7 linked regions of the Homo sapiens genome follow. The protein of the gene in region 1 purifies or fractionates together with the protein of each later gene. This does not show direct contact. Each region holds a gene or a part of one and is shown in the gene's direction. Other genes may lie near its edges. The genes, in order: SLC9A2, LRIG3, METTL13, DHX32, LRP4, MLF1 and KIF1A.

What was found.
Region 2: the proteins of SLC9A2 (region 1) and LRIG3 purify together in Homo sapiens (affinity purification with mass spectrometry; one large-scale study listed by BioGRID and IntAct). This does not show direct contact.
Region 3: the proteins of SLC9A2 (region 1) and METTL13 purify together in Homo sapiens (affinity purification with mass spectrometry; one large-scale study listed by BioGRID and IntAct). This does not show direct contact.
Region 4: the proteins of SLC9A2 (region 1) and DHX32 purify together in Homo sapiens (affinity purification with mass spectrometry; one large-scale study listed by BioGRID and IntAct). This does not show direct contact.
Region 5: the proteins of SLC9A2 (region 1) and LRP4 purify together in Homo sapiens (affinity purification with mass spectrometry; one large-scale study listed by BioGRID and IntAct). This does not show direct contact.
Region 6: the proteins of SLC9A2 (region 1) and MLF1 purify together in Homo sapiens (affinity purification with mass spectrometry; one large-scale study listed by BioGRID and IntAct). This does not show direct contact.
Region 7: the proteins of SLC9A2 (region 1) and KIF1A purify together in Homo sapiens (affinity purification with mass spectrometry; one large-scale study listed by BioGRID and IntAct). This does not show direct contact.

The regions. Positions count from the first base shown.
Region 1 is NC_000002.12:102,626,053-102,629,552, forward strand, and holds part of SLC9A2 (sodium/hydrogen exchanger 2 precursor), read left to right. Parts: intron 1-3,500.
Region 2 is NC_000012.12:58,871,655-58,875,504, reverse strand, and holds the end of LRIG3 (leucine-rich repeats and immunoglobulin-like domains protein 3 isoform 2 precursor), read left to right. Parts: intron 1-931; coding exon 932-1,075; intron 1,076-1,174; coding exon 1,175-1,450; intron 1,451-2,688; coding exon 2,689-2,933; 3' UTR 2,934-3,350; downstream 3,351-3,850. UniProt on the Homo sapiens protein: May play a role in craniofacial and inner ear morphogenesis during embryonic development. May act within the otic vesicle epithelium to control formation of the lateral semicircular canal in the inner ear, possibly by restricting the expression of NTN1.
Region 3 is NC_000001.11:171,794,938-171,798,216, forward strand, and holds the end of METTL13 (eEF1A lysine and N-terminal methyltransferase), read left to right. Parts: intron 1-1,544; coding exon 1,545-1,819; 3' UTR 1,820-2,779; downstream 2,780-3,279. UniProt on the Homo sapiens protein: Dual methyltransferase that catalyzes methylation of elongation factor 1-alpha (EEF1A1 and EEF1A2) at two different positions, and is therefore involved in the regulation of mRNA translation.
Region 4 is NC_000010.11:125,874,793-125,878,292, reverse strand, and holds part of DHX32 (putative pre-mRNA-splicing factor ATP-dependent RNA helicase DHX32), read left to right. Parts: intron 1-3,500.
Region 5 is NC_000011.10:46,856,217-46,859,550, reverse strand, and holds the end of LRP4 (low-density lipoprotein receptor-related protein 4 precursor), read left to right. Parts: intron 1-235; coding exon 236-568; 3' UTR 569-2,834; downstream 2,835-3,334. UniProt on the Homo sapiens protein: Mediates SOST-dependent inhibition of bone formation. Functions as a specific facilitator of SOST-mediated inhibition of Wnt signaling.
Region 6 is NC_000003.12:158,595,194-158,598,693, forward strand, and holds part of MLF1 (myeloid leukemia factor 1), read left to right. Parts: intron 1-1,668; coding exon 1,669-1,752; intron 1,753-2,886; coding exon 2,887-3,015; intron 3,016-3,500. UniProt on the Homo sapiens protein: Involved in lineage commitment of primary hemopoietic progenitors by restricting erythroid formation and enhancing myeloid formation.
Region 7 is NC_000002.12:240,817,420-240,821,459, reverse strand, and holds the start of KIF1A (kinesin-like protein KIF1A), read left to right. Parts: upstream 1-1,240; 5' UTR 1,241-1,338; intron 1,339-2,182; exon of another isoform or gene 2,183-2,354; intron 2,355-4,040.

The DNA.
Region 1 (3,500 bases):
GCATTTCTCTGATGGCTACTTTAAAGTTCATATGGAACCAAAAAAGAACCCACATTGCCAAGTCAATCCTAAACCAAAGGAACAAAGCTGGAGGCATCACGCTACCTGACTTCAAACTATACTGCAAGGCTACAGTAACCAAAACAGCATGGTACTGGTACCAAAACAGACATATAGACCAATGGAGCAGAACACAGCCCTCAGAAATAATACCACATATCTACAACTATCTGATCTTTGACAAACCTGACAAAAACAAGAAATGGGGAAAGGATTCCCTATTTAACAAATGGTGCTGGGAAAACTGGCTAGCCATATTTAGAAAGCCAAAGCTGGATCCCTTCCTTACACCTTATACAAAAATTAATTCAAGATGGATTAAAGACTTAAATGTTAGACCTAAAACCATAAAAACCCTAGAAGAAAACCTAGGCAATACCATTCAGGACATAGGCATGGGCAAGGACTTCATGTCTAAAACACCGAAAGCAATGGCAACAAAAGCCAAAATTGACAAATGGGATCTAATTAAACTAAAGAGCTTCTGCACAGCAAAATGAACTACCATCAGAGTGAACAGGCAACCTACAGAGTGGGAGAAAATTTTTGCAATCTGCTCATCTGAAAAAGGGCTAATATCCAGAATCTACAAAGAACTCAAACAAATTTACAAGAAAAAAACATACAACCCCATCAACAAGTGGGCGAAGGATATGAACAGACACTTCTCAAAAGAAGACATTTATGCAGACAACAGACACATGAAAAAATGCTCATCATCACTGGCCATCAGAGAAATAATAGATATTTTTATCACCAAATGAAAATGTTACATTATATCCACTTTAACAATGATAACAATACTCAGCTTTATTTCTTACAGAATTATTTCACCTAGATTGAATCCCTAAGAAGTATACAATGAACTGTTTGCATAAAACCATTTGTTCTGGCTGGGTATTGTAGCTCACAACTGTGATGTCAGCACTTTGTGGGGCTGAGGTGAGAGGATCACTTGAGGCCAGAAGTTTGAGACCAGCCTGGGCAACATAGTGAGGCCCAATCTCTTCAAAATGTTAACAACAACAACAACAACAACAATAACAACAACAAAAAGCCAGGTTTGGTGGCCTGTGCCTTTAGTCCCAGTGACTCAGGAGCTAGTCAGGAGGATCACTTGAGCTCAGGAGTTCAAAGTTACAGTGATCTGCGATGATGCCACTGCACTCCAGTGGGAGTGGGCAAAGACAGATGGAGACCTGCTCTCTTAGAAACAAAAAAAACAAACTGTTCCTTGGGTGATATAAAAACTCACCTGTAAAAGCAAGTGAATTGATGGTTTTGGTATATGGATAGATTTTAACCAGTGAGTCCGTGGCTTTAATGTTTATAGTTTTATTTGGTTTATCTGTGTCTTCTGGGGTCAATTTTGGTAATTTGTATTTTTTATAAAATTATTATTTTGAGTTTTTAAAAATTTATTGGAAGTTATTTTATGATTTAAAAGATCTCCACTTTATATGCATTTATGTTCTCCTTTCTGTTTCTAATATTGTTATGTTTTTCTTTTTTTCACCTTGATCAGGTATGCAGGAGTTTGTCTATTTGATACTTTATCAAAGAATTAGCTTTTGGTTAGCTTCTAAGTTATCTGCTTCTGCTCTTACATTTATGATTTACTTACTTCAGCTTTCTTTGGGTTTATTTATTTAATTAATCCTTGAATTAAAAACTTAACCCATTAATTGTTTGGTTTACTTATGTTCTGTTAATATTGTTAATTCCCGCCTTACAAGAGTAAGAAACACCAATATTTAAAAACATAATTAATATTATTTTCAATAGTTTCTCTGCTGGTATTTTTATGAATCCCTGAGCTCCAAAATTGACATGCACTTATGCTAAAGTGACATCAGTCTTATTAAAATGAACAAAATTACTTCAGTAGCTTACTTACTTATTGAAACTCCTAATAAGACAATTCCCCTTATCAATTTATCCCAAATATGGGTATTTGCTTGTTTTCATTAAATTCAAATCTATGATATACTGTACACTTAAGACTCTGTCACAAACTAAACGTATTCATAATACTCAAAGTTTATGTAAATTCATCTTTAATACAAATAATAATAACAATAAAGAGAATGGTAAAGACAAAAGATATAAGGAAAATTATGCAAATGACATATCAGTTTCTGAATAAATTGCATGATGTCTTTACTGCTGTTAAGTAGGAAACCATGGGTGTTCTGAAAGGATTTCTTAACACAACATACCAATGATAAAACTGGAATGATGACTGCTTTTGATGGATCTCATCTCAGGATGCTCAGAGTCCACAAAATCAGTTTGATCTTCATGGAGCCAAAGGAATGCTTCATGAACTAAAATAGGATTATTCAATGAAACTCTTCTCAAAGATGAATTCTCATGATCCAAATGGGTAAATTTTGGAAGAACGGCAATATATGTATTTAAGGCTAGAAATATACCCCTTTTTTCCTACTTTAATTGTATTGCATAGGTTTGATATGCGGGGTTTCCACTGTCACTCAGCTCTCGGTATTTTTAAACCCCCTTGTGATATTTTATTCTGACTCAATAATTAGTTAGAATTTTACTTCTCAGTTAATAAACTTATGGAGATTTGGGGTTTTTGTTGTCATTGTCAGTTTTAGAGATAGGTTCTCACTATGTTGCCTTGGCCGCTCTCAAACTCCTTAGCTCAAATGATTCTCCCGCCTAAGCCTCCCAAGTAGCTGTAACTATAGGCATGCACCACCATGCCCAGTTGTTTTTTATTTTATTGACATTTTAATGCATTTTGGCTAGATAGGTATAATGCTGATTTTTAGTGTTGATTGTGATATCCTTTATGGCTTATTTTATGGACATTTTAAAACTATATTTTCCATTTATACTTGAAAAAACAATGTGTATTCTCTATTTATTGTGTACAGGATTTTATATACTTAGATGTATACATATGCAGACACATAGAGACTAGGTCAAATTTCTAATTACGGTGTTAAAATCTTCAATAGCATTACCAGTTTTTTGGTTACTTTATCAGTTCCTGGGGTACATTAAAATCACTTCTAAAATTGTGATGTCAATTACCATTTGTAATTGTTTCAATTTTTGCTTTGTTTTGATGCTATGTTATTACATACTCATTCAATATTGTTACATCTCCAGAGTGAGTTCTTCCTTTAATTATTAAGTTTTTAACTTCCTTATTTCCAGTACTTGTGGCTCAAAGTGTATTTTTTCATATAAAACTATTACCATTTAAAAGAAAACTTGATTTTGCGCATGTACTTTTTTTCCATATCTGTTTTCTATATCTACATTTTCCAGATGTATATTTTTATACCTATACTATCAAATGAGTTATGTTATTTTCATTTGGCTAGGCCTCATTAAACCACATAGATCTGGATTTTGCATCTTTAATTTCACATTTTAAAACACCGTAGCTTAAAAAGAGAAATGTA
Region 2 (3,850 bases), on another chromosome or scaffold:
CAACTTTTCCCATAAGTATTTATTATACGCTCTGTGCCAGACATTGTAGTTGGGAGAGAAGTATATGTTTTCAATTTCACAGTTTCGTCAGAGGTGGATAAACTAAAAGTGCTTGGCAAGCCAGAAATAAAGAGCGTAGAGTTACAGGATCTGAGCATAGAAGTGAGTATTCTGGTTAGACCCGTTTAGAGGCAGAGTGGAGACCCAAGCTCATTAAAGCATAATGGGGTTAACTGAAAAGACACTTAAGGAAAACCTAAAGGGACAGAACTGGGGCATAATAATGCCAGGCTGCCTAGATGCTGAGGCTGGAGATGAGGCTGCTCCCAGAGTAGCTCTGGGCCACCAGCATTACTGTGTCACGTTCTGCATATTTGCTTTTCTCTCAGCCCACCACCTCTTGCTGCCCAGTTTCTGCTTCCCAGACACATGCGTCATCGTGACATCTCTAACCCTGATGATATCATTTACTCTTCACCTGCTGTGTCCAGCAGTAAATGGCGTATATTTCTGTGTTGTTTGGTTCAGATACTCATGAGATGATATGTTTAGCTGAGCTTATCTTTGAGATGGGCATTAAGAGGTCATTGGCCAAGTGCCAATCCTGGTTCTGGTCATCTGGGACCTTTTGTAAGAAGGGGACAGTGCTGATGGTATGTGGTTTAGACCATGGCTGCTTTGGCTGCAGGATCTGCACATATCAGTTTCCCGTAGAAACCAAGTGAGCAATAAGGCCACCACACCTAGCACAATGGCTAATTAAGTCCTCTAATAAATTTTTTAAAACCCTACTGTAAATTTTTGCAATTTTTTTGTCTATATGATGTTCTAGTCAAACTTTCATCTATAAATATGGAAGATGCCAAAACTGGGGAGAATGTTGAATGGCACTTGAATAATTGGATCATTGACTAAGATTTTTGTTTCAAAGGGACCTGCCATATTGACAATAGCAGTGAAGCTGATGTGGAAGCTGCCACAGATCTGTTCCTTTGTCCGTTTTTGGGATCCACAGGCCCTATGTATTTGAAGGGAAATGTGTATGGCTCAGATCCTTTTGAAACATATCATACAGGTAGGTGGTTTTCTTGCTTGAGTACAGTTCTGTTTCTTAGAGAGACTTCTAGATGTGCTAACTGTAATCTCCTTCTGTTACTGCCCCCATATTAAAAAGGTTGCAGTCCTGACCCAAGAACAGTTTTAATGGACCACTATGAGCCCAGTTACATAAAGAAAAAGGAGTGCTACCCATGTTCTCATCCTTCAGAAGAATCCTGCGAACGGAGCTTCAGTAATATATCGTGGCCTTCACATGTGAGGAAGCTACTTAACACTAGTTACTCTCACAATGAAGGACCTGGAATGAAAAATCTGTGTCTAAACAAGTCCTCTTTAGATTTTAGTGCAAATCCAGAGCCAGCGTCGGTTGCCTCGAGTAATTCTTTCATGGGTAAGTTTATTAAGTTATCAGGTACCTCGTCTGAGGATCCATACTCCAAGTTGTGTGTGAGAGAGCAATGACAGCCTTGAATGTCAAACTGGTAAAAAATGGTTTCTTGAATGAGGCTGCCATGACATCCGACTAGTTAGTGTAAATGCCTCCAAAAGCAAAGTCAGAGGTGGGATTTTACTTGATGATGTGTTTAATCTATAACTAAGCCTCAGGAGCTTTCTGGGTAGCACTGTGTGTGGCATCTACTCCAAGACAAGGGTTTGGGGAGGACTTAGGAGCTCAGCTTGTCAGCCATGTGGAAAAAGTGGTTTTGGGCTCCCACGGCCTTTGGGGTGGAGTTGTGTGCTCTGCATGATTGTGGTTTGGTATGTCTGGTGGCTTCCAACTGAACCCGCAGTCGAAGGGTGGAAAACAACATCCTACCTAGCAACAACTGCTAGTCTGACAAGCTGGACTACCTTTGGCCAAGAAAACCAGCCTTAAGGTCCAAGTCGGTGGTGTTAGATGCTGGCTGGCACTGAGATTAGGTAGTGAATTTTTTCGTCTGATGCATGGGGATAATAGGATGGAAGAGCTGAGGTCATCTTTTCACTGAACAGAGAGATGGAAAAATCAGCCACAACTTGCCATGTTGACAATAAAATTTAAAAAAGGAGAATTTTCAAATATTTTACCCAACTTCTACGAAATGTTATGTTTTATCACAGTGTAATTATTTATATTCCTTTTTTGGAAAAAATTAAAATAATATGCTTTGTATAACTGAGGCAAGAATTTGATTCAATTGAGTAATATTTGGCTACAATTAATGAAGAAAGGGCAGGACACAGGTTTATTTTGAAAGAAAATTTCTTTATTTAGCCTCAGTTAACTTGGATGTTACCATCCAACACACCCGTCACCAAAATTGGGCTCTCAGCTAGGATGTGGGGAAACTTATATTGGGGAACTTTATTGCATGACCATTAACATTACTACAGGTCATGAGAAATGATAAAGAATAGATGCATTTGTTCAGTGGATGTAAATATGAGGGAAGGCAAATGTCTTTTGCTCCATTCTAGAAGTGATCTGGCTGTAAGACAGATGTACATGTATGTGAGTGCCATAATGTGGACTTGTAGAAAACACTTACTCATATTCATGGGGTAAGATGTTCCTTCATTTGCAATGGGTTTTATTGATTCACATGCTAGCAAAGGGACCCATGTGCTCAAGGTGTTTCTTTCTTTCAGGTACCTTTGGAAAAGCTCTCAGGAGACCTCACCTAGATGCCTATTCAAGCTTTGGACAGCCATCAGATTGTCAGCCAAGAGCCTTTTATTTGAAAGCTCATTCTTCCCCAGACTTGGACTCTGGGTCAGAGGAAGATGGGAAAGAAAGGACAGATTTTCAGGAAGAAAATCACATTTGTACCTTTAAACAGACTTTAGAAAACTACAGGACTCCAAATTTTCAGTCTTATGACTTGGACACATAGACTGAATGAGACCAAAGGAAAAGCTTAACATACTACCTCAAGTGAACTTTTATTTAAAAGAGAGAGAATCTTATGTTTTTTAAATGGAGTTATGAATTTTAAAAGGATAAAAATGCTTTATTTATACAGATGAACCAAAATTACAAAAAGTTATGAAAATTTTTATACTGGGAATGATGCTCATATAAGAATACCTTTTTAAACTATTTTTTAACTTTGTTTTATGCAAAAAAGTATCTTACGTAAATTAATGATATAAATCATGATTATTTTATGTATTTTTATAATGCCAGATTTCTTTTTATGGAAAATGAGTTACTAAAGCATTTTAAATAATACCTGCCTTGTACCATTTTTTAAATAGAAGTTACTTCATTATATTTTGCACATTATATTTAATAAAATGTGTCAATTTGATGCCAAGCCCCATTTATACAATAACAATTTTTATTATTTTTAGCACAATTTAGGCTTAATTAGTTCACATTATCATGTCTCAAACGGATGGGAATTATATTTAGCCCATTAAAGTATGAACAAAAATGACCGTTTTTTCTACCTCCCAGGATTGTTGTAATACAGATTGAAATCAGATTGTGCATATGAAAGCACAATTGTAAACGAGAAGGAGCTACAGAGATTTAAGGTACATTATTTCTAAATCTACGAACAAAAAAAGATTTGTTGTTATAATCTGGTGTAATATAGTACAACTACCATAAATCACTGCTCAATTCATGTTTCTTTAATTATAATAATGGTTTACGTGGTCTAATGCCTTATGCTTATCCAAGTAGTTTCACTTTTGCCGTCCCTTTTCTTACAGCAAGCGAGTGGTTTATTGCATATGTCTATAGCTAAAATGGCTCTAGCAGAAGTGGACTTTCATGCACTGTTCCAGGTTGTAATGAGATGCT
Region 3 (3,279 bases), on another chromosome or scaffold:
GTCACCTGAGTAGCTGGGACTACAGGTGGATGCCACCATGCCTGGCTAATTTTTTTATTTTTATTTTTTGTAGAGATAGGATCTCAACATGTTGCCCAGGCTGGTCTCAAACTCCTAGCCTCAAGCGATCCTCCTACCTTGGCCTCCCAAAGTGCTGGGATTACAGGCATGAGCCACTGAACTTGGCTGAATGTACTCTTTAAGTGTCCATTTTCTTTCACTCAACATGATGTTTGTGAGACTCATTCACAGTGTTGTGTTTACATGGCTTATTTTTATTGCTGTGTTATATCATGTAACTTAACACAATTCGCTTATCCATTCTACTGTTCGTATTTGGTTTGTTTCCTGTGTGGGTCTATTATAAGTGGTGCTGCCATTAACATTCTAGTATATGCCTTTTGATGAATTATGTTTTCAGATCTCTTGGGTATATACACAGGGTTGTAATTGCTGGATCATAGGTTATGGGTATGTTTTTGGCTTTTGTAGATGCTACCACACAGTTTTACAAAGTGGTTGTAGCAGTTCACACTCCCACCAGCATGGTGATGCTAGCTACTACATGATGCTTCCTACACGTGCTCTACTAGGCAGTGTGTTATTTAATCTTCATAGCAGTCCACTTTTTGGATGAGGAAACTGAGGTTGAAGATTTGCCAAGGTGACGCAAGGTAACAGTTGGGGCTCAAAGTCAGTGCCTTGTCACCTCAAAACTGGAGCCTTTAATCCCTATGTTAACAACCCTCTAGGTATTTTTGATTTGGTGTAAGGCACTGTGGTAACTGGCTTGATTTGGAATCTTAATTGTCAGAAGTCAAGATAACCTCGGCCCTGTCACTGGTTAATACTCTATGGTGTGTATGCCAAGAATGTAATATCCCTGTGGAGTTGGTAAATTTTACTTTCGTAGGGAATCACTTTCTATTGATTGATTGAGACAAAGTCTCATTCCGTCACCCAGGCTGGATTTTGGCTCACTGCAACCTCTGCCTCCTGGGTTCAAGAGATTCTCCTGCCTCAGCCCCACTAGCAGCTCCTGCCTCAGCCTCCCTAGCAGCTGGGATTACAGGCGTCCACCACCATGCCCAGCTAATTTTTATATTTTTAGTAGAGCCGGGGTTTCACCATTTTGGCCAGGCTGGTCTCAAACTCCTGACTTCGAGTGATCCGCCTGCCTCAGCCTCCCAAAGTGATGGGATCATAGACATGAGCCACCGTGCCCAGCTGGGAATCACTTCTTTCTCAAAGCTATTCTTTGAGAAGCTATTTGGGAAACTGAGGCTTGGAGAATGGTAAAATAACATGTGAGCAGCACAGAAGAGCAAGAAATAAGGCTGGAGTTTGTTTATGGCTCACATGCTCCCCATGCTTTTCTCCATCTGCCTTTCTATGCTGTGTATTCTCTGCAAACTCATCACCACCGTGTGTTTTAGTCCACCAGTCTCCCTGGGACAGGAATTGGTATTTTCCTCAAAGCCGATCCTTGTCTTTCATATGTCTCCTGATGTGAGGTCATTCTGACTTTTCTTCCTACCCTATAGGTGTTTTTATTCTCAACCTTGTGTGCCGAGACTTGGGGCTAAAAGACTCAGTGCTGGCTGGGCTCAAGGCAGTGTTCCCCCTCCTATATGTCCGGCGAATTGAGGGTGAAGTGAATGAGATCCTGTTCTGTCAGCTGCACCCTGAGCAAAAACTTGCCACACCAGAGCTCCTAGAAACAGCCCAGGCTTTGGAGCGGACCCTGAGGAAGCCTGGGAGGGGTTGGGATGACACGTATGTCTTGTCAGATATGCTCAAGACGGTGAAAATTGTGTGACTGCTTAGGCCAAGCAGCCCTCCTGCCTAGACTGACCTTGGACTCCCAGCCTGCCAGAGAATGAAGAAATACAACGCACAGTACTTTTGAAGCTTCGTATTTTTCTTGGTTTCACACTCAGCTACATGTGACCTCCAGCTTGGTGAGGTTGCCTGAAGATTAGGGAAAATAAAAATGTCCTTCCCATCTTGTCCTCTTCAGTACCACTTGGGTTGGTTTGTCTTTGCTTCCTACACCACGTCCTTGAGTGGAGTTCCCTGCTGAAGCCCCTAGCACACACTGCATGCCTTAACAAGTGTGTGCAAGCCCCTCAGAACTCAAGACATCCAAATTTTATTGCGTCTCTACTTATACTGGTTTGCTTTTGATTTATTCCTCTATTAGTTCTATAGGAGTGATCTCAAGTGAGATAGCAGAGCAAGATGCCAAAAGACCATAAATAGAGTAAGGTTTCTATAGATGTGAGACAGATTTGAGAGAGCATTTACTCTGTCTCCCTGTGGATGAAACTGCTGCTGAAATGGTTCCAATTTTTAGGAATCTGCTTACCCACTTCATTATTTGACAGCTTTCCTTGGTGACCCAAACCTTGTAGCCTAAGCCATTTGTCTTTTTCTCAGTGGAGGGAGTGTATGGACCTGGCCCCATGGCTTTGCATGTTAGAGACCTGGCAGACTAAAGTCTCTAGTGTTTGTTTGCTCACATTTGCTGAGTGACAGCTATGTGCCAGACTGCATAAAGGGTGGTGGCAGAAGTGAAAATGTTTAAGAATGACCAAAAACATTAGTAATGAAAGTTAATGTGTTCCAGGCATTCTTCTAAGTGGTTTACATGCACTGTCTCATTTAATCTGAGATAAAGGATACTTAAGCCCAAACTATATCTAAACCCAAATCTCACTTGGCTGGAAACATCAATCTTAACCATTTATTCAGAACCATTAAACCAATGATTCCAAGACTGGCTTGAATTTTGTCTTTCCTAATTATACCGAGGTTGACTTAATGAGCAGTGCCATGGAAAATAGGCATTGTCACCATTCACCACCTGGCTCTTCTTTCCACAGGCCCTTTAAAAATGGACCCTGACCTTTCAGTTGAAGCATACAGATGCTCTTCAGCCTACGATGGGGTTATATCCTGATAAATCCATCATAAGTAGAAAATGCATTTAATACCCTGATAACCCATTGTAAACTTGAAAAATTGTAAGTCAGAGACTGTCTGTATTTCAGTTAGGTTGTCATCCTTAGAAAGTAGTGTCAGTCTGTTAAGGAGAGGAGGGAGTGCAGAGAAGTGTTTTTAGATCTTACCCATTAGAAATACTTGGTTCTCTTTCTTTAGGAGGGGATCTTCCCCTGGAACCCCGTAACGGGAAGATTATCCCTCATGTCAGGTCTGTGTACCCCAGAGGACCTTACTTGGCAAGTCCTTTCTTTTTTCTTCCTTGTTTTTGAGACA
Region 4 (3,500 bases), on another chromosome or scaffold:
TTTCTTGTATAGGCACAAATTTATCTTTAAAAAGGTAACTTTTCAGAGCTACTCCTATGTCTACACTTTCTCAAAATGTGCAAAGGAGGCATATTTTGGGGTCACATATTCTGGTCTCCTTCAGTCATATTCTGGGGAGGTATGTCCTGAGCCCCAACATTAGATAGTTAATAAATACTTATTATTCAGTTTGTTGTTGTATTTGGACTTCAAGTTTTTGTTCAAGTGAGATCCATATTTTACTCTTAAGTTTTAAAGCAAGCAACCAGTATTTTTATCATGAAATTCATTTCTAGATTCTCGCGATGTAAGAATTAGAATAGACCATATAGTGTGAATAATAAGAAGTCCCATTTCTCATAGAGAAGTTACGAATAGATCTAGTAGAATAGACTATGCTCTAATAGAATAGAATTAGAAACTGATGGAACCCCTTCATTTTTCAGATGAATAAACTGTGGCCCAGAAGGATTTGATAATTTGTCTATCTAATGTCAGTAGCTTTCTGAATTGGAGTTAAAAGAATATTTTCTACTATAAATTGTTGCTTTCAAGTTGTTTATTATCTCTAGAGTTTACCTATTTTATTATCACTATTATTTTTTGAGACAGAGAGGCTCGTTCTGTCACCCAGGCTGGAATGCAGTGGGGCAGTCTTGGCTTACTATGACCTCCGTCTCCCGGTTCAAGCAATTCTTGTGCCTCAGCCTCTTGAGTAGCTGGGATTACAGGCATGCACCATCATGCTTGGCTTATTTTTGTATTTTTAGTAGAGTCAGGGTTTCACAATTTTGGCCAGGCTGGTCTCGAACTCCTGGGCTCAAGCGATCCTCCCACCTTCACCTCCCAAAGTGCTGGGATTACAAACATGAGCCACTGTACCTGCCCTAAAGTTAACTTACTTTAAAGGTAATTTGAAAAGAGGAGGGCTGGACAACAGATGTTTTTTATCTGATTTACAGCTGCCAGTATCAAAGGTTTATTATGATTTGTTCTTTGTTACGCTGTTATTGTTATAACAAACGATTTCAGTTCATTACGAGAAGCTAACGATGAGAACTGACTGAGTATAATTTTCCTAGTTTCTGTGGACAAATAACATTGAAAAAATGTGTTTTTATTTTACAATAATTTCAAACTTACAAAAAGTTGCAAAAATAGTACAAAGATTTTCCATATGTTGTTCACCCAGATTCCCCAAATGTAAGATTTTACCATATAAACTTTATCTTTCCCTCCCTGCCCCCTCCATACATTCATACACATTTTTATTCTGAACCATTTAGGGGTAGGTTGAGGACATGATGCCCTTTGCCTCCAAATACTTAACAGAGTATTTATTTACTGAAAAACAGTGTGTAGCCGTAACATAATTATCAAAATCTGGAATGTAATGTTGATATCTAATTATTATCTGATTTCTAGACATTCACATTTAATCAGTTTCCCATTGATAGCCTTTATAATCACTGAAAAAAATTGTTTTTCTGGTCCAAAATCCAATCTAAAATTGCATTGTATTTTATTGTCGTTTTTTAATCTGACACAACTCCCCAGTCTCTCCCTGTCCTTTATGACTTTGACATTTTTGAAGAGCACAGGTTATATATTCTGCAGAACCTCCCTCAGTTTGAACATGTCTGATGTTTCCTTAGGGTTAGGTTCCGGCTCTGCATTTGTGGCAAGAAGATCACACAAGTGCTGTGTATCCTTCTCAGTGCCTCATATCAGGAGGCACAAGATGTCAGTTTTGCCCATGCTGGTGATGTTAATTCTGATCCCTTGGTAAGGTGGTATCTGCCTGGTTCTTTATTGAAAAGTTAACAATTTCCCTCCAATCATTTAATAGATACATATTTTGAAAGTATGTAAATGTTTCTCATTATACATTTGTAACCACCCAATGGGTTCATCTTGTTTGTTGTCAAGATAGAGCCAATTTATCAAGACAAGGGAATTGAAATAGAGAATGAATTTAATACACATAAAGCTGGCTAAACAGCAGACAGGAGTTGTACTATTACTCCAATCAGCCTCTTTGTCAATTTGGAGGCTAGAGTTTTTCAAGGATAGTTTGGTGGGCAGGGGGCTAAGGAATGGGTACTGCTGATTGGCTGAGGATGCAATCACAGAGGTGTGGAAAACAGTCCTCATGTGCTGAGTCCACTTCTGGGTAGGGACAACAGAGGAGTTACTGGTCTATCCAGTTATAGGGCCTCCAGTTGTCAGAAATACAAAAACCTGAAAAGACATCTCAGAAGGCCAATCTTAGGTTCTATAATAGTGATGTTATTTACAGGGAGGTTACAAATCTTGTGACCTCTGGAATAATGACTGGTAATCATTTAACTACACCTACATCTTGGCAGAATTCAGGCCCCTCTCATCCTCCTAACCTGGTGTCCTTTCATTAGTTTTACAAAGGCAGTTTCATTTTGCTGTCATCATTTAAACTATAAACTATCTACAAAAGTTAGCTTGGCCCACTGCAGGAATGGCTAAGGGAGTTTGGGGGTGAAAGGCAAGATGGAGTTGTCAGGTCAGATCTCCTTCACCATCATAATTTTCTCACTGTTACAATTTCTGCAAAGGCAGTTTCACATTCATCCACTAGTGTTAGCATTTTTGGTGATTCTTACCTTTGAATTATTACATTAGTAGTAACCAAAGATGATTATTCTAATTCTGACATGCCTTCTACACATTATTTAGAATCTTTCTGTAAGTCTGAGCTTTCTCTCCTTCATCATTTATTTATGTCAATGTGGACTCATAAATTCTTATTTTATTCTATGGGTTATAATGTATTACTAAGCCTACTTACTTTGTTGTTCAAATTGCCCCCAATGTGGCTTCTCTGTCCTTTTGACATTTCCCCATTATTGAGCACTTCTTTGCTTTCTGGCTCAGTAAGATGTTCCAGGTTCATCTAGTACATTCCGCATGCCGGTGTAGAAACCATTTTTTTTTTCTCCAGGAGTCCTTGTTCCGTTTAGTGGTGAACTGTGTTTTGAAACCAAGATCTGGACACTAAGTACCTATTACCATTGGTTTATCATTGCAATTTTTTTTTTGAGACAGTGTTTCATTCTGTCACCCAGGCTGGAGTGCAGTGGCATGATCACGGCTCACTGCAACCTCAACATCCTGGGCTCAAGTGATCCTCCCACCTCAGCCTTTAGAGTAGCTGGGACTACAAGTGTGTGCCACTACACTCAACTAATTTTTGTATTTTTTATAGAGACGGGGTTTTGTCATGTTGCCCAGGTTGGTCTCGGACTCCTGGGCTCAAGCAACCTACCTGCCTTGGCCTCCCAAAGTGCTGGGATTATAGGCCCACTTCACCCGGCCTATCATTGCTTTTAGGCCATCTCAGTGGACACAACAAGGAAATAAATGTATGTGAGTGCAATATACACACGTCTCATTCTATCCATCTATTTGTGGCTCTGTTTCTCTCTGTCTTTCTCTATTTTTATGTATTTCTATTTTCTTACCTC
Region 5 (3,334 bases), on another chromosome or scaffold:
CGGAAGCCATGGTTTTCCCTCCTCCTGTATGGTAATGGTAATAATTATCACAGCTGCCTCTCCCCTTTTAGGCTAGGCCTCATACACTTGTCTTAATCACATTTCCCCATTTGTTTGTGGGATTTTTGTGCGCTTCACTCCTACTCTTACCCCATCCACTTCCTTTTTCAGTTTACCATGGGATCCTTTGTAGAAGGCCAACTGACTGACCATATCTGCCCACTCTCCACCCTAGGGAGGGCCTGACCATAACTACACCAAGGAGAAGATCAAGATCGTAGAGGGAATCTGCCTCCTGTCTGGGGATGATGCTGAGTGGGATGACCTCAAGCAACTGCGAAGCTCACGGGGGGGCCTCCTCCGGGATCATGTATGCATGAAGACAGACACGGTGTCCATCCAGGCCAGCTCTGGCTCCCTGGATGACACAGAGACGGAGCAGCTGTTACAGGAAGAGCAGTCTGAGTGTAGCAGCGTCCATACTGCAGCCACTCCAGAAAGACGAGGCTCTCTGCCAGACACGGGCTGGAAACATGAACGCAAGCTCTCCTCAGAGAGCCAGGTCTAAATGCCCACATTCTCTTCCCTGCCTGCCTGTTCCTTCTCCTTTATGGACGTCTAGTCCTTGTGCTCGCTTACACCGCAGGCCCCGCTTCTGTGTGCTTGTCCTCCTCCTCCTCCCACCCCATAACTGTTCCTAAGCCTTCACCGGAGCTGTTTACCACGTGAGTCCATAACTACCTGTGCACAAGAAATGATGGCACATCACGAGAATTTAGACCTGGATTTTACCATGAACCTCACATCTTGTACTCCATCCTGGGCCCCCTGAAACTGCTTATTCGTGATTCCTCACCAGCGTAGAGCTCCACCTCCCCTTTCCCCAGTACCCTCAGTGCCTGCTTCTCAGTGCTGATGCAGCTGATGACCCAGGACTGCGCTCTGCCCCATCACAGCCAGCATGACTGCTTCTCTGAGAGAACTTGCCCATCAGGGGCTGGGACATGGGGGTGTGGGTAAAGACAGGGATGAAGGATAGAGGCTGAGAGAAGAAGGAAGAATCAGCCCAGCAGGTATGGGCATCTGGGAAACCTCCAGCCTCAAGTGTGTTAGTAACATGAAAAAGCTTTGGGGGGTAGTTGGATCTGGGTGTCTGGTCCATTGCTGGCAGTGGACATTATTCTTGCCCTAAGAGACACTGCCTTTTCAGCAGCAGATACTGGTGAGATGGGGGTGGCTCAGGCTGTTCTTCCTCCTCCTAGAATGTCTGGAGCTGTTTCTACATTCAGATAACTGGGTCCCCTATCACAAGGCTACTGGCTAATAGGAATTCCCTCCTGGTGCCACCACTGGCCAGTACCTTTCCTAAGTCTTTGCTCAAATTAACCAGGTTGTGAGCCAGTGGCTTGAGTGAATGTTAGGCCTTGGGGGCTGAGTCTCTGAAAAGTCTAAGAAGCTCTGCCTAGACCAAATATGGTATACCTCCTGACCCCTCTCTCCCTCATGTCCTGGGATTCTGGGGAAGAGACCTAGAAACAAGCTTTCAAAGAAAAACCAGAAGTTGTCATAAATGGTCAGAAAGAACGATCAGGTTGGAGACTTGGGAAACCCAGGGCCTAAAGAGAAGTATCCATGAGGGTCAAACTTCCTGTTGAACTTCCTATGTTCTTTCTCAAGTGCTCAGGGATCTAAGTTAGTGGACAGCAAGCCTGTGGCTACGGGGTGGTGATGTTCCTCTTCCAGCTGTCCCCTCAGCTAAGGGGCTTAGTTTCCATGTGGGATGCCATCACTTGGTTCATGCTCATTCACACAAAGGGCACGTGTCTCAGCCTGGTATCAGGGAAATTGAGACTTATTTTTGCCCTAAAACGTCTCCCTAGCTGTTCTTCGTGGGGTTTTTTTGTTTGTTTTTTTGCCTAATTTGCTTTTTCTGACCAAGCCTTGTGGCACCAGCAATCTCCAAAGTCCTGTGGTGGGAGGGCTGAATAAATAAAAATACAAAGAGGTGGGTAAGGAGTAGGAAGGTAGAGAGCACCACTGATGAGGCCCTCCTAGCCCATGGCAGACCCAGACCTCTTCTCCCCCAGGAATTAGAAGTGGCAGGAGAGAACAACAGGGGCTGGGAATGGAGGGGAGAATTTCTAGGGGAAGTTTCCTGAGTTGAAACTTCTCCTGTGGTTACTGGTATTGAGAAATCAGCTACCAAAGTGAAAAAGGACAAGATCAATTCTTTTCTAGTCAGTTCTAAGACTGCTAGAGAGAGATACCAGGCCCTTAGCCTTGCTCTCAGTAGCGTCAGCCCCAGTTCTGAGCCTCCCCACATTACACTTAACAAGCAGTAAAGGAGTGAGCACTTTGGGTCCTTAGACTCACGTCTGGGGAGGAAGAGCAAGTAGAAAAGTGGCATTTTCTTGATTGGAAAGGGGGAAGGATCTTATTGCACTTGGGCTGTTCAGAATGTAGAAAGGACATATTTGAGGAAGTATCTATTTGAGCACTGATTTACTCTGTAAAAAGCAAAATCTCTCTGTCCTAAACTAATGGAAGCGATTCTCCCATGCTCATGTGTAATGGTTTTAACGTTACTCACTGGAGAGATTGGACTTTCTGGAGTTATTTAACCACTATGTTCAGTATTTTAGGACTTTATGATAATTTAATATAAATTTAGCTTTTCTTAATCACCTTGCCTGGCTTGGAGTCATGACTAATCCTGCACCTGCTCTGTCTGGCAGACCCATGCTGTGGAAAACCTGCTTACAGACATCACTTTTAAGTCCTTTGTGGATGTGGGCACAGTGAAGAGCAATAAAGAGTGTGAGGTTCCTGCTGGAGTTTTCAGCTCATCTGGAGAAGACAGGTCGAGGCCAGAGTTCCTTGACTGATGAAACCTTTATTTCCTCTGGAAGAGGAATGGTAGATGGGTTTCCTCTTGAGTGCTGACTCTGACTGGTTGGTAGTGGCTGCCTGAGGGCCTATTCGCACCCAATGGGAAGAATGTCATATGGCTAGTGACATCTCTTCTGTGCACTGGAAGGAAATGTCATGGCATGTATACCATGTATCTTCTATTTCTGTTCTAGGTCTTTGTTACAGAACTTTACTTTGCCTTGCAGTGATGGTCACTGGCAAGACTATCTCATGTAGTAAGAAAAGTACTGGAGCTGGGGACATGGAGGGCTAATTCCAGTCCCAGATCTGCCACTAGCTCTGTTTGATCTTAGTCAACTTTCATAGTTAGTCTGAGAGTGGATCAAATTATCACTAGGATTTCATTTATTTTTAAAAGCTGTCTTTTCATAGCTCATCCACTACTTCTCAAGGCTAGAACAAG
Region 6 (3,500 bases), on another chromosome or scaffold:
GGGATTAGACAGGTGACCAGCGGTGGCCTTTCTCAGGTGGTGATACTTGAATCATGAGAAGGAACTAACTAGGTTTAAAGTCAGGAGGAAACATTTAAGGAAGAAAGAGGAGAATGTGTACAAAATTTTTGAAGGCCTTAAGGGCCCACTGAAGTCTCAACTACATTTTGTACCCCAACTTTTTGTCACTCCAGTGTGTTGGGTCACCCCAGAGCAAGTGCAGATACATCTTTTGATGGTTGATTTGAACATGAATTGAGAAGAGGGCAGAAATACCCAAATGTCTAATCTTTTCCTCTCTCTCTTTTTATCCTTCTTTGGGTTAACCTTTCCATATCTCATGAAATAAGAACGGATTCTCAATCTAGTGTTAAAGCAAATATTCAGAATATTCCCTGAATTGTGTTTGCCTCTCTGAAATGCAAAATTAATTCTACTTCAGTCCTTTTTTACCCAAATATATATTAGTATTTCCTAAATGTGCCTTTGTTGTTCCCTACAATATTAAGTGCAGGTTCTAAGGAGGAATTTGGTTTTCCCACCTATTTTACATTATTATATCTGTAAAAATCCAATAGCAATAGAACACAGAGACACAAATAGAACTTAGGAGGATTCAGAGCTCCGCTTGGTTGAACAGAGAAGTTCATTAAACCAAGCAACTCATTCTGTTTTATAACAGATGATTTACTGGCTAACACATTGGAATGTGTGCCTGACTTTTATTTTCTGGTGAGTCTTCCAGTGATAAAACCTAAAATCAGTGGTAGATTTTAAAACCTAAAATCAGTGGTAGATTTTCCTAGAGCAAAGTTTCTCAACCTCAGCCCTACTGTCATTTTGGGCAGGGTAATTCTTTTTGTTCTGGGAGACTGTCCTATCCATTGTAGGATGTTAAGCTGCATCCCTGACCTCCACCCACTAGATGCTAGTTATATGCTCTCTTCATCTGTGACAGCCAAAAATGAGTATAGTTATTGCCAGTGTCCACTGAGAGTCAAAATCAATCTTGGTTGAGAAACTACTGTTTAGAGGAATTCTTAACTGTTTTTCTGAAGACACATACCTCATGCTTCAAGGGTATAGCCTACTGACCCTTCAGTAGGCAGCAAATTGAAGGCCTATTAGTAAAGTGAATTGATTTCTGTCACCCAGATCCTACTATGATGAGAGGAAGGCTGGCTACTTACTCGAGGGACAACTTCTGTCAGCCATGTGGTACTGCTGGAGGTGACACTGGCATCTTATACGCAAATTTAGTTATTTGCATGGTGGAGTATTGAGAGATAAGGAAAATTATGAAAACTATCGTATGCTAGAGAATGTATCACTTAGTATTTAACATACACCAAATTATGTTTTGAAAAAGTGAGTAATGAGTGATTAGGTGTGTATGTGTTTTTATATATACATGCACATATATGTATTTATAATGTTACAGTTCCCTAATTATTTGTATGTTGGCTCTTTGGGATTTTGTGTATGCTTCAATTTTCTCCTTAACTAATCACTGTCATTATATCCTCTAAGTTATCTTTGTCTGGTTGATTACTGCATGAGATTTCACTAAATGAATTGGAAAAAAATGTTTTAGCTGTTTTGGAAGATGTATTTGCATCTTTTGTGTTGTTACCTACAGTTAATAACATACTTCCTGATATTCTGTAGCATACAGATGTCAGCTCTTTCCAGACAATGGACCAAATGGTGTCAAATATGAGAAACTATATGCAGAAATTAGAAAGAAACTTCGTAAGTACTAAAAACAAAGCATTGAGAACATTGTGTATACTTTGATATATTCTATTTCATAGTGGCTTTCAAACACTTTTTTAACCATAGTGGTTAAAAAAGATACCTTACATGATTAACCCAATAAGCAATATTTGTATACTTTATAAATATATTTGAAGCAAAAGTTTCATGAAAAAATGACTATACTATTTACAGTATATACAGTTATTTTCTAGTCTATTTCATGTATTAAAAATCCTGGTTACAACCCACTAAATTGAGTTCATAACCTCCAAGTTTGAAAAATAATGTTAACTTTGAAAATTTTTTAAAAATTGGAAAAAAAATAACCTCAAAAACATTGATTCTATTGAAAGTCACTATTGTAAATGAACATTTTATATGAATTTGCATAATTTTATTATTAATAACCTGTCTACTTAAAAGGATTTGTAGCATCTGAAGAGTTTCAGGGTTTTATAAACGACTCTGAAAACAGAAATTTTAGGAATAATGTTTAGGTATAGTTCCCTAATAGTCCAAATAAACTAGTACTATAATAATACTCTCTATATTAACATCAAAACCAGTCACTTGATTTGATCTGAAGAAGACCCATAACATTCTAGTCATCCAGTTTGAATTCTATGGATCATTTCAGAATGCCCAAATAATCTAGGGCATTATTGGTTTTAGTAATGTAGCAATCTGGTACCTACAGGAGGAGGTACGAAACTTGATGTATAACTAATTGATTGGCTTAATGTTGGCAAGATTACACACAAGGGTCAACCACTGACTATAGAAGTATCACAGGTTTGGGGGCATAGCATCTTTATTGAAATCTAAGCCACGAGCACCCAAAGACTTAAGGATCTCTGAGTGAGTCACTTATTAGTCTTTGTAACGAGAGTGGGATAATTGTACCTAAAATGGACGACCGTTAGGACCCTCTAGGGGTGACTTTTTTTGGGCGGAGGTAATTTTTCAAGTCACTTCTCACTTGAGAACCTGGGTGTGCCTTTGACTACACCATATTGGTAGTTTAGTATCCTTAGTAGAACTTACAGCTAGTGTTGTTACTTATTTGAACTCTCTGGCAATAATTATTTATATTTGACTCGACTGAATTTACAATTTGTTTACCTGTAGGGTCAACTTTCAGTGGATCCAAATGGACATTCATTTTGTTCTTCCTCAGTTATGACTTATTCCAAAATAGGAGATGAACCGCCAAAGGTTTTTCAGGCCTCAACTCAAACTCGTCGAGCTCCAGGAGGAGTAAGTTTTCTATAAGCATTCCTAAAGTTTTATAAAGTTAGGGGATGATAGACTGTCTAGATCAAATTTTAACTATTAAAATTTAATCTGGTACAAGATGGTGGGGGGACAGGAGGGAGGTGTGGGGGTTGGGGGTAAGGTAGTCCTCACTGTGGAAACCATTAAAGCTCAACTGTATTTACTTAGTTTGTGGCATTTTTTTTGTAGCCCCCCCACCCCCCCGTGAGGGTGCCTTTTTTCATGTAAATATCTATGGATGTTTATTACCTTTACATGTTGACAAGGTAAACAAAACACGAAAAGAAGCCTTTGTTTCATGAAATTAATGTCTATTTTTAAGTTTACATTTGAAGTGAATTAATTTTTTAACTCATGAAATATTTCAAGTGTACAGAAAGGATATAGAGAATAACATAATAAGTGCCCATATTCCTGCCACCCAGTTTAGTCATATCATAACATTTTTCTCTATTTGCTTCAAGTTG
Region 7 (4,040 bases), about 140 Mb from region 1:
GCTGTCTAGCTGGTTTCGGCGGGGCTGGGGCTGGGAGTGGGGGGCCCGTGTCTTGCAGAAGTGGATGTGAATCTCCCCCAGCCACCTGCAAGGCGCTCGCACGCAGCTGTCGGGACTGAGGTGAAGCCGGCTCTCCCAGGAGTGTGGATGAAATGGTTAACGGCGAGGCCGCTAGGGCAGCGCAGGCCCCTGCTGGGCGCCAGGGAGGCTTAGCCAGGCGACGCCAGGATGCCCATGGCAGGGGCTCGATGGCAGGGGCTGGGCTGGAGGGGACCCAGCCCCGGGGTTCAGGGTGGCCCGAAATCCGTGCACCCCCGCACCGCAGTGCGGGGAGGTTCCCATGGGCGAGCTGCCCAGAGGCTTTGTCGAAGTTGCCCAGCCCTGGGACGGTGGAGGGAGGACGGTGGCGCGCACAGAGATACCAGTCAGCCCCTGGAACTAGGAAGGCGGCTGGGGGCGGGTGACGCAGGCTGGGGTTTGCCGGGGTGGCCCCCGAGCGGCGTGTGACTTGGGGGTCCAAGGAAGTTAAACTGGACAGGCTGGGGTGAGGACAATGGGGGCCTGGAGAGGTGGGGCGAGAGGAGGGCGGGGGGTCCCCACGAGCCGCGGTAGAGGCGAGGCGGCGGGTCCGCGGGCGGGTTGCATCATCCGGCGGGGAGGGCCTGGGTCACTGCTGCTCTTCCCCCGGCGCCCCGGCCCCGACACAAGATGCGATTTCACCGCGCACCTGTTACACCCGGAGCCAGCATCCCTGGCGCAAGGAGCCCTCCCTCCCCAGCCCCGCCCGCCCCCCACGATGCGTCTGTCGCTGGCTCAGAGCGGGGGCAGGTGGACGTTTTACGATTTCACTCGAAAGGGGCCAGGGTGGGGGACGGCCCGGCGAGGGGTCCGCGGGCAAGTTCAGGTGCACGCGGGGCTTCGGGACGGGGCGCCGCCGGGTCCCTCCCCCGCGAGGTCTCAGGGGCACGCCGGGGGAGGGGACGCTGCGTCCGAGCCGGGTGTCGGTCCCCCACCCTCCGCGGGGCCCGCCGCGGTGTCAGCGGTGACGTCACAGCCCGGCCCCGGCCCCCTCCGTCCCCAGCCCCATCCCCGCGGCGGCCGCGTCGCCCGTCCCTCTCCCCGCGCGACAAACCAGCTGGCGACTGGAGCTCGGACGCCGCGCGCAGCCAACCAGCGCCTCGGGAGGGGCGCGGGGCGGTCCGGGCCGGGGGCGCGCAGCCCGTCACGCGGCGGCGCCGTCACAGCGCAGAGCAGCCGGCGAGCGGCAGCAGCTCCGGGCTCGAGAGCCCGCGCCCATGCCAGTGCCCATGCGGGGCCGCCGCCAGTGACGCCGGAGAGGTAAGGCCGCCGCCCGCCCGGCCTCCCGCGCCCGCGCCCCTCGCCCCGCACCTGCGCCCGGCAGCCCGCGCCCGCAGCCCGCACCTGCACCCACTGCGCCCAGGGCGGGGAGCTCCGGCCCGGCGCCCTTGTTGCCGCCCAAAGCGCAGGCACTGCGAGGCCCCTTCACTTCCAGACCTTCCTCCATCTCCGCAGAGAACAATGGGGGAAATTCAGGGGTGTCCGCCCTTCAGGTGCCGCTGGAAAAGGTCCCTTTGCCGCGATCTCGGCTGCAGCGGGACCCTCGGCTTAGGCGGGCGGGGGTCGCCCTCGGGAGGGCTCGCCCGGCCGGCGGGATCGGGATACCCCCGCCCTTCCCCGGCTATTCCGCTTCCCTGGAGAGGAGCCACCGGCGGGGCTGCGGGAGGGGCTGCGCCCAGACGGCGGGGGAGGGGAGGGATGGTGAGCGGGGCTGAGGACGCTGACGCCGCACCTGGGAGGGTGCGCGGCTGCAGCGCCTCGGCCCGAGGGGAGAGCGCGCAGGGCGGCCGGGCGCGGGCAGCTGCTCCGGTTCCCGGGGTGGGGGAGGGCGGATGCTGGAGCCGGGAGCAAAACAGGCGGGCGGGGCGGGGGCTGCGGCGTTGGGGCCTGGCCACCCGCTTCGTTGCACGGCCGGCCTGCCCATCACCCCCTCCCACGCCAGAGACCCCAGCTCCCTTCCAGAAAGACCCAGCACCTGGGAGGGGCCGCCGGCGAGCACTGCCTGCGTCTCAGCAGCCAGCGCCCCTGTAACAGGTGTGGCCCGGCGGCGAGGGAGGGGCTGCGGGGCCGCAGGGTCTAGGCTGGCGGCGCGCCCCCGGCGCCCGGGCTCGGATGACACGAAGGAACAGTGGCCGCGAAGACCTTCGCACTCCCGCTTTAAGCCGCTCCTCACGCTGACTTCCCCCAAACCAGCCGCGCTGCCCTCTCGCTGGGAAGGGCCGGGGCAGCATCCCCGCCGGGAGGGAGGGTCCGCAGGAGCGGGGCGCTGGGCGCCGGTAGGTGGGGTTGGGGGGGCCCTGCCGGCCGCAGGGGCGGGAGGGGGAGGGGAAGGAGGGAATGCCAAGTCATGGGGCCTGCTGGGCGCGAGCGCGACGTCGCCCGGCGCGGACCCGATGCGCGCCCACGTCCCCGGGAATAGGGACTTTCCCCCAGAGACTGGAGGACCCCTTCCCCAAGCGTCAGCCCTTTCCAAGGGGTGCCTGCATTGCTGGAATTAAAGGCCTGCCAGGGCAAGCGGATTGGATCTTGCGGCTGCGGAGAGGAGGCGGTGCGGAGAGGCCCCTGCCTCGCAGGGCTGGCACTGGCCTCACCCTGGGGACGCACAGCGCGACACCGTGCTCGGCTCTGCGGGACACCAGGTCGCACTCAGGCTGGCGGGGCCTTTGCCAGGGAAGCCATGCCAGCACCCTCGTGGTGTGAGAAGGCAGCAGAGGGTTTGAAGGGAAGCTCTGGGGTCCACGTGGGGGTTGGGGCTGCACCTGCGGCGGCCATTTTGCAGGTGTGGTTGGCCACCAGCCTTAGCCAGGCTGTGGAGTGGGGCAGTCAGGAGTGGGGCAGTCAGGAGTGGAGCAGATGTGGAGCTTGCGGTGCAGGGTGTGGGATGGGCCAGGGCCAGGGCTCAGGTCTGCCCTTGCACTGAACACACACCGTCTATTTAGAGGGGTTCCTTGTTTGGTTGATGGGGTGGTTGGAGTCAAGACCCAGGAACCCTCTGGACCGGAGGGATGAGGAGGGATGCGGTAAGGCCGCTGGCTGAGGGGCCCAGCGTGGGATCGGAGGAGGGCAGCCTTTACCCGGGGTGAAGTCTCGGGAGGGTGCTGGGTCCAAGGCAGGGCCCGGATGAACAGCTTCACTCCGGCTGCAGATGGATCTGAGGCCCTGCAGGTGTCCTCCCCGGGCAGGTCCGCAGGGTGGACAGAGGCTGGAATCAGTTGTCAAGGCAGGGGTCCCGGGCCGGGCCCAGGGAGGTCCCTGTGGTGAGGGCCTGCAAGATGTCTGCTGTGTGCCAGCCCTGCTCCCAGCCGGGTGCTGCCCCCCTGGGTGCCTCCTTTCCCCCTTCCCCACTGGAATGTCCCACAGACTGCCCCATCTGGGGCTCCAGCCGGCCAGCCACAAACAGGTGGAGCCTGGAGTTCTGCCCAAAGCCCAGGGATGATGCTTGGCTGGATCAGGATTAAAACTGGGGTCACTGCCCGGCCGCCCAGCCTGTGCCCCGCAGTCCTCACTGATGTCATGACTGCTGACCTTGGGCCCACCATGCCCTTTGGGAGTAGGGTAGGGCAGTCCTCCTGTGGGATTTGTGAAGGGTGGAGGGGGAGATGTGAGCTGGAGGAGGAGGCCCTGGAGGAGACTGAGGGCATCTCTTCAGGCCACTCAGCCGGGCCGGCCAAAGCAGGTGAACTGGGTGTGGTGGGGACGGGAAGGGAGACGTTCCCACAGAGCCCTGGTCCTACCAGATTGGGGTCTATGGAGGGGCTACCAGCATTAGGTCATTGGGATTTACTGAGCCCTGCACATGCCTAGCTGGCCAATCCCGTCAGGCCTGAGACCATCCGTGCACATCTATCAGTGAGCTGGGAGGGGCCTGAGCCGCTACCACGGGTGGAGAGTGGTGGGCCTGGGTCTCTGGGTGGCTGTGATTGGTAGGATGAGCACGTGGTTGTCTGCCTGCAGAGTCTGGG